Homo sapiens: one gene and its partner. The protein of the gene in region 1 interacts with the protein of each later gene in a biochemical or structural test. Each region holds a gene or a part of one and is shown on either strand. Other genes may lie near its edges.

The links.
Region 2: the proteins of TFR2 (region 1) and DCLRE1B are reported together in a solved structure, tested with the Homo sapiens proteins (one study listed by BioGRID).

The regions. Positions count from the first base shown.
Region 1 is NC_000007.14:100,628,044-100,631,851, reverse strand, and holds part of TFR2 (transferrin receptor protein 2), read left to right. Parts: coding exon 1-46; intron 47-626; exon of another isoform or gene 627-696; intron 697-799; coding exon 800-963; intron 964-2,479; coding exon 2,480-2,599; intron 2,600-3,545; coding exon 3,546-3,628; intron 3,629-3,715; coding exon 3,716-3,779; intron 3,780-3,808. UniProt on the Homo sapiens protein: Mediates cellular uptake of transferrin-bound iron in a non-iron dependent manner. May be involved in iron metabolism, hepatocyte function and erythrocyte differentiation.
Region 2 is NC_000001.11:113,903,944-113,908,230, forward strand, and holds the start of DCLRE1B (5' exonuclease Apollo), read left to right. Parts: upstream 1-1,382; 5' UTR 1,383-1,643; coding exon 1,644-1,832; intron 1,833-3,052; coding exon 3,053-3,218; intron 3,219-4,065; coding exon 4,066-4,248; intron 4,249-4,287. Other genes in the region: AP4B1 (AP-4 complex subunit beta-1), read right to left, coding at 662-774.

The DNA of each region.
Region 1 (3,808 bases):
TCCCAGCCCAGCCCATCAGTGCAGACATTGCCTCCCGCCTGCTGAGGTGAGGGGAGTGTTGGGGACCAGAAGAGGAGGAAGCAGAGAGAGGAAGGCTGCAGCGAGGCCACAGGGTGATTGTGGGTGAACTAGAAAAAGGTGACTCTTGTTTAAGCCTGCAGTGAGCCATGACTACACCACTGCACTCCAGCCTGGGAGACAGAGAGACCCTGACCTTTTTTTTTTTTTGAGATGGAGTCTTGCTCTGTCTTCCAGGCTGGAGTGCAGTGGTGCAATCTTGGCTCACTGCAACCTCCACCTCCCGGGTTCAAGTGATTCTTCTGCCTCAGACTCCAGAGTATCTAGGATTACAGGTGCCCCCCCACCACGCCCGGCTAATTTTTGTATTTTTAGTAGAGGGTTTCACCATGTTGGCCAGACTGGTCTCGAACTCCTGACCTAGTGATCCGCCCATCTCGGCCTCCCAAAATGCTGGGATTACAGGTGTGAGCCACCATGCCTGGCCGGGACCCTGACTCTTTAAAAAAAAAAAAAAAAAAAAAAAAAGTGACTCTTCTGGATGGACACAGCCTTTCTCCAGGGTCTACTGTCTGGCAACTAAAGTTCCCACTGGATTGCACACCTACCTCAGCTGAGAACCATCCAAGGCAGCCCTGACTGCACTGCCCTACCCAGGCAGCGTCCAGAGGCAGCGATCTGGAGCCAGAAAGGGTGGGAGGGAAAGAAATAAGGAAAAGAGTGATTTGGACTCTTCTGGGTCTCTCTACAACTTCCCCCTTTCTGCCTTCCTCCTCTCCAGGAAGCTCAAAGGCCCTGTGGCCCCCCAAGAATGGCAGGGGAGCCTCCTAGGCTCCCCTTATCACCTGGGCCCCGGGCCACGACTGCGGCTAGTGGTCAACAATCACAGGACCTCCACCCCCATCAACAACATCTTCGGCTGCATCGAAGGCCGCTCAGAGCCAGGTATGCTGTGTGTCCAGTATCACTCACAGCTGGTGGTGGGCTGGGGGAATTTCTGCCCATACACCCTGGCAAGATAGGGGGCTGGTGCAGGAGGCCCCAAGAGGGGACAGGAGTGGTGCCCAGAGGAGGGAAGCTGGCAAGTTGAGGCTGAACTGGGTCTGATGGTGGCAGCAGTGAACAGACCTCACCTTCCAGCCTGTCTAGTGATGGAATGGGGGTTGTTGCCCAGTAGTGAGCTCCCCAGCACTGGAAGTGAGTAAGCCTAAGTTGGATGATGTTGTAATAGAAACTCAAGCATGGGCCGGGTGTGGTGGCTCACGCCTGTAATCCCAGCACTTTGGGAGGCCCAGGCAGGTGGATCACTTGAGGTCAGGAGTTTGAGACCAGCTTGGCTAACATGGTGAAACCCCGTCTCTACTAAAAATACAAACATTAGCTGGGCCCGGTGGCATGCATCTGTAATTCCAGCTATTCCGGAGGCTCGGACAGGAGAATCACTTGAACCCAGGAGGTGGAGGCTGCTGTGAGCCGAGATTGTGCCATTGCACTCCAGCCTGGGCAACAGAGCAAGACTTTGTCTCAAGAAAAAGAAAAAAAAGAGAAAGAAAGAAAGAGAGAAAGAGAAAGAAAAAAAGAAAGAAAGAGAGAGAGAGAAAGGAAGGAAGGAAGGAAGGAAGGAAGGAAGACTCAAGCATGAAAGAAAGATCAGATCAGATTAGATAGAAGCATAGATGGCCCTTTCAAGCATAGCTAGATGTGGATGGCAGTGGAGAATTAAAATAAGTAATTGACAGATGGGGCAACAAAGCCAAGACTTCACAAAAAATTTAAAAATAAGAGAAATTGGCTGGGTGCGGTGGCTCACGCCTGTAATCCCAGCACTTTGGAAGGCCGAGGTGGGCGGATCATGAGGTCAGGAGATCGAGACCATCCTGGCTAACATGGTGAAACCCTGTCTACTAAAAATACAAAAAAATTAGCTGGGCATGGTGGCAGGCGCCTGTACTCCCAGCTACTCAGGAGGCTGAGGCAGGAGAATGGCGTGAACCCGGGAGGTGGAGCTTGCCGTGAGCCAAGATCGTGCCACTGCACTCCAGCCTGGGCAACAGAGCGAGACTCCAAAAAATAAATTAAATAAATAAATAAGTAAGTAAGTAAAAGAAATTAGCCGAGCATGGTGGCACACATCTGTGGTCCCAGCTACTTGGGAGGCTCAGGCAGGAGGATGGCTTGAGCCAGGGAGTTTGAAGCTGCAGTGAGCTATGATCACACCACTGCACACTCCAGCCTGGGTGACAGAAACCTTGTAAGTCCAGAATGACCTCAGGCACCCAGCTGAAGGAGCACACCATCCAGGAAGGGCCAAGTGGGGAGGGGCGCCCTCTTTAGGGACTGGAGGGACTGCAGGGCTAGGGTTGCCGGAATTGTGATGGGCTGAGAGACACAGGCAGATGGAGGATGCCCCCAGGGTGCAGGGTGCAGTGTCAGAAGTGGGTCCCAAACATCCCCTCCCCAGATCACTACGTTGTCATCGGGGCCCAGAGGGATGCATGGGGCCCAGGAGCAGCTAAATCCGCTGTGGGGACGGCTATACTCCTGGAGCTGGTGCGGACCTTTTCCTCCATGGTGAGCAACGGTAAGGTCAGGGCCAGGGCCTGGGCCTGGGCTAGGCAGCGGTGGGCCTGTGGCCCGAGGAGGATAGGGCAGAGAGGCAGTGAGGGACACAGACTGGCCAGTGGTCACTTGGACCTCGGCATCCACATTGTACCTGAGTGGCCCTGGGCCAGTCACTTCACCTCTATTTCGTCACCTAAAAATGAAAGTGAGGCCGGGTGCGGTAGCTCACGCCTGTAGTCCCAGCACTTTGGGAGGCCGAGGCAGATGGATCACCTGAGGTCAGGAGTTTGAGACCAGCCTAGCCAACATGGTGAAACCCTCTACTAAAAATACAAAAATTAGCCAGGCGTGGTGGAGGGCGCCTGTAATCCCAGCTACTAGGGAGGCTGAGGCAGGAGAATCGCTTGAACCTGGGAGGCGGAGTTTGCAGTAAGCCGAGATCGCACCACTGCACTCCAGCCTGGGCAACAGAATGAGCCTCCTTCTAAAAAAAAGAAAGAAAAGAAAAGAAAAAAAGTGACATGAATGATAATCATAGTCCATGGGTCTGTGTCAAGATTAAGCATGTTGGGCTGGACGTGATGGCTCATGCCTGTAATCCCAGCACTTTGGGAGGCCAACACAGGAGAATCGCTGGAGACCAGGAATTCAAAACCAGCCTGGGCAACATAGGGAGACTGCATCTCTACAAAAGTTTTTTAAAAATTGGCTGGACTTAGTGGTGCATGCCTGTAATCCCAGCTACTTGGGAGGCTGAGGCAAGAGGATGACTTGAACCTGAGAGGTCAAGGCTACATTGAGCCATGATTGCACCACTGCACTCCAGCCTGGGCGAGAGAGTGAGATCCTGTCTCAGAGAGAGAGACAGAGAAACAGAGACCCTGGGGGACCAGGACAGAAGAAGACAAGGGGAGGGTCTTTGCTTGGCCCCTGCTAAGCCTGTCCTCCTTCCCCTCTGTCCCCAGGCTTCCGGCCCCGCAGAAGTCTCCTCTTCATCAGCTGGGACGGTGGTGACTTTGGAAGCGTGGGCTCCACGGAGTGGCTAGAGGTGATACGGGGTCCCGGGCAGGTCGTTAGGCATTGGGGAGAGGTGGGGGTGGGGGGTTCCCACTCCACACTGGTCACCCACCCACAGGGCTACCTCAGCGTGCTGCACCTCAAAGCCGTAGTGTACGTGAGCCTGGACAACGCAGTGCTGGGTGAGCTGGGGCAGTGCCACCACCTGGCC
Region 2 (4,287 bases), on another chromosome or scaffold:
AAAGTTTGTGAACCATAGCTGTAGGCAAGAGTTATGTGTTCAGGTATGTATAATGGAAAAATTCTGTCTCAAATGAGGCAAAGTGGCCTACTAGTAAGCTGCTGCAATTGCTTTATTGATGAAGGCCTGGACCAGAACAACAATGCTAATAAACAAGAGAGGATGGATATTTAGAATTATGAATTCAAACCATCTGACATAAGAAGTGAGAGATCAGGTGTCCTCAAGGTTGGCTCCCACGCATAGTCGGCTGCTGGTGGCATTCATCAACACAAATGTAAGCTGAACAGGTTTGAGGAAGACGGAAGAATGTCCGGGCTATTTCGGACATACTTTTGATAAACCACGCACGTGGAAATGCCAAGCAGGCAGTGGGATACGTGGGTCTGAAGCTAAAAAAGGAAGTCTGTACTAGCTATATTATAGATCCAAGAGTCACCAGTAATTGCTCAAGCCCGTGATATGGAGGAAACTACCCAGCTGAGTAAAAGATGCTGCAGAGGGGAGACTGACATGGTACTCCAAAGCAGCAGGACGAAGACCGAACCATATAACTGCCACGTGTGAAAGCTAATTCACCCTTTCAGAGAGACTGGGGCTAGTGAGCCCTGATGGGGATTGCAAAGGGAGCAGTTAGCACGCGAAGGGAGGTAGGTGATACCTAATCACTCGCTGGATGACATTCCGGTAGCGCAGCCTATCAGCTTGAATGTGAGGATTGCACAGAGCCTTCTTCAGCTCCTTCACCACGTCCTCGGAGCCAAGGTACGGCATCTTCCTAAGAGTCACAGGGCAGCTCCCACAGCTCCCACGGTAACTCGAGGGCTCCTTCTCGTCCTGATGTGGGAGCCTGAGTAAAGGAAATATGAGTCAGTGAAAATACAAAAGGCGAGATCTCGCCTCAGGCTCGGCTTCCGTAGGGCCGGCACGCTGGCCCTGACACACTTCCACGCCCTCCGCGACACCGCGAGCCCCACCCTAGGCTCTTCAGGCCCTACCGTCGGCCGGCAGGCCGTTCGCCCCGCCCACAGATCGCTCCCGCTACTTCTAGGTCCTCCGCCGGATTTCCAGCGCCGCGTCCGACTGACCGCAGACCCCTCCCTCTCCAGTTCCAGCCTTAATTCCCCCTCCACGCCGTTCTCATCGCGGATAGGCCCAATCTTGCTTTCTGCGGAAGTCCCGCCCCCTTGTCAAGAGACCAAACAGAAGACCGCTGCCGGTCTCCCCGCGAGCGAGCGCTAAGCGTAGTCCCGACTCCGACCTTAGGATGCCCTTCCCCCAACCTCTCACTCTCCAGGCGCAGCTGCGCGGCTCCCTCTGGTGGAGCTGCGGCGGGCAATCGGAAATCGGCTACTTTGGCCTGTCTCCTCCCTGCAGCGCGCGCTTTGAGTGCCCGGCTCGGCCTCCGCTCCCGCGCGGTTGGGAGTGTCCAGCGCCCTCCGCGATTTGGGCTCCAGCGGGCAGGGTGACTTCCTTTTTCTGCCCACTCTGGTAACTTATTGCTCTGCTGGGCTCTTTCCCTTAGGGTCTCTGGCCCTGTTCTTGCCCCAGCATGACTTTTATCGGGACGCCGTTGTGGAAGCCTCACGCAGGAGCCCTGCCCCCGTGGAGAAGATCCCACTGGTGACTCCAACCCTACCACCATGAATGGGGTCCTGATCCCCCATACGCCCATCGCAGTGGACTTCTGGAGCCTGCGCCGGGCTGGCACCGCACGTCTCTTCTTCTTGTCTCACATGCACTCGGACCACACCGTGGGCCTGTCTAGCACCTGGGCCCGGCCCCTCTACTGCTCCCCAATTACAGCCCACCTCTTGCATCGTCACCTACAGGTATGGGGCTGGAGTCGGTCTCCGAGAGCTGGTCCAGGCATCTGGGTTGGGACTTCAACCTGTCATTCTTGGAGTCATAGAATGGGGGCCACGAAAACTGATTTGGAAGTTGTTTGAACCCAAAAATGCATCTTTAACCCAGAATAGGAACGTGTTTTCGAAGTGACCAACTTGAGATAGTTAGCCATAAGTTGAGGAGATATTTTAATCCAGCCAAGGAAACTATTCCTACCTTTATAAGTAAGCTAGGCCGATGTTTCCCAAACTTGCCTTTTTTTTTTTTTTTTTTTTTTTTTTTTGAGACGGAGTCTCGCTCTGTTGCCCAGGCTGGAGTGCAGTGGCGCAATCTCGGCTCACTGCAGCCTCCGCCTCCCGGGTTCAAGCGATTCTCCTGTCTCGGCCTCCTGAGTAGCTGAGATTACAGGCGCACGCCACCACGCCCAGCTAATTTTTTGTATTTTTTGTGGAGACGGGGTTTCACCATGTTGGCCAGGCTGTTCTCTAACTCCTGACCTTAAGTGATCCGCCCGCCTCAGCCTCCCCAAGTGCTGGGATTACAAGCGTGAGCCACCACGCCCCGCCTAAACTTGCCTCATCTTAAGAATCCACCTAATGTGCTGGGTGGTTCTCCAGCTCTCTCCCCACCCCACCCTTAAGTCTCCAAGAGATTAAGATCAGGAGTAAGTTTGGGAATTGCTGACTAGACTGTTTGCTGAACTCTTTTTTTTTTTTTGAGATGGAGTCTCGCTCTGTCGCCCAGGCTGGAGTGCAGTGGCGCAAACTCGGCTCACTGCAAGCTCCGCCTCCCGGGTTCACGCCATTCTCCTGCCTCAGCCTCCCGAGTAGCTGGGACTACAGGCGCCCGCCACCACGCCTGGCTAATTTTTTTTGTATTTTTTAGTAGAGACGGGGTTTCACCGTGTTAGCCAGGATGGTCTCGATCTCCTGACCTCGTGATCCACCCGCCTCAGCCTCCCAAAGTGCTGGGATTACAGGCGTGAGCCACCACGCCCGGCCAGCTGAACTCTTAAATTGTACAAAGGGTGGGATGGGAAGTGGAAGGAGGAAGGGCAGATTGCTTGGGAATCCCCATTACAGCTTCTGCTCCCGGTGGCTCAGGATTTGGTCAGCTTTCCTGATTCATGTAAGGGATAGTCCCTGACCCGGGGAGGTAACGGAGAGGAGTCAGTGGTCACTGGGATGACTAACTGTTTTCTCAGGTATCTAAGCAATGGATCCAAGCCCTGGAGGTTGGTGAGAGCCATGTATTACCCCTAGATGAAATTGGACAAGAGACCATGACCGTAACCCTCCTCGATGCCAATCACTGTCCTGGTTCTGTCATGTTTCTCTTTGAAGGATATTTTGGAACCATCCTCTACACAGGTGGGCCTCTCAAGGAATCCCAGTGACTTCTCCAGACTAGATGTTTTTTTTTTTTTTTTTTTTTTTTTTTTTTAATGTATAGACTGGGGCCTCGCAGTGTTGCCGAGGCTGGTCTCAAACTCCTGACCTCAAGCAATCCTCCCGCTTCAGCCTCCACAGTAGCTAGGATTATTGGCACAAGCCACCACACCTGGCAGACTTTTCTTGAGCAGCCTTAACTCAATAGAAGTCTGGAGGCGCTGGAGGCCTTCTAACTTCATCACATATGAGCATAGTGACCCCATCTCAACTGATTTCCCACTGTTTTTTTTTCCTTCTTCTTTTTGAGACGGAGTTTCACTCTTGTCACCCAGGCTGGAGTGCAGTGGCGTGATTGTGGCTCACTGCAACCTCCGCCTTCTGGGTTCAAGTGATTCTCTTGCCTCAGCCTCCCAAGTAGCTGGGATGACAGGCGCCTGCCACCACGCCCAGCTAATTTTCGTATTTACTATTAGTAGAGACGGGGTTTCACCATGTTGGCCAGGCTGGTCTCGAACTCCTGACCTCAGGTGATCCACCTGGCTCGGCCCCCCAAAGTGCTGGGATTACAGGTGTGAGCCACTGCGCCTGGCCGATTTCCCACTCTTTAAGGGTCCGAACCTTGTGAAGAGTAATTGAAAAATAGGAGTAGGATGGAGACATTACAACAAAGAAACCATGCAGCTATACTGCCTAGTTCAGTGCCAGGCTACATAATAGTTTTTTCACAGACTAGTAAGCAAACGCCTGTCTATTGTTGGAGGTAGGAGAGGCTTGTCTTCTATTCTTTTGTCTCTGACCTTCTGCCCCCATGTACATATTCCTCCAGGTGATTTTCGATACACACCATCCATGCTAAAGGAGCCAGCCCTGACACTGGGGAAACAGATCCATACTTTATACCTAGACAACACCAATTGCAATCCAGCCCTGGTTCTTCCTTCCCGACAAGAAGCTGCCCACCAGATTGTCCAGCTCATTCGAAAACACCCACAACATAACATAAAGATTGGTGAGTTGTTTCCTTTCAGTTTCCTGTCACCTGTAGATA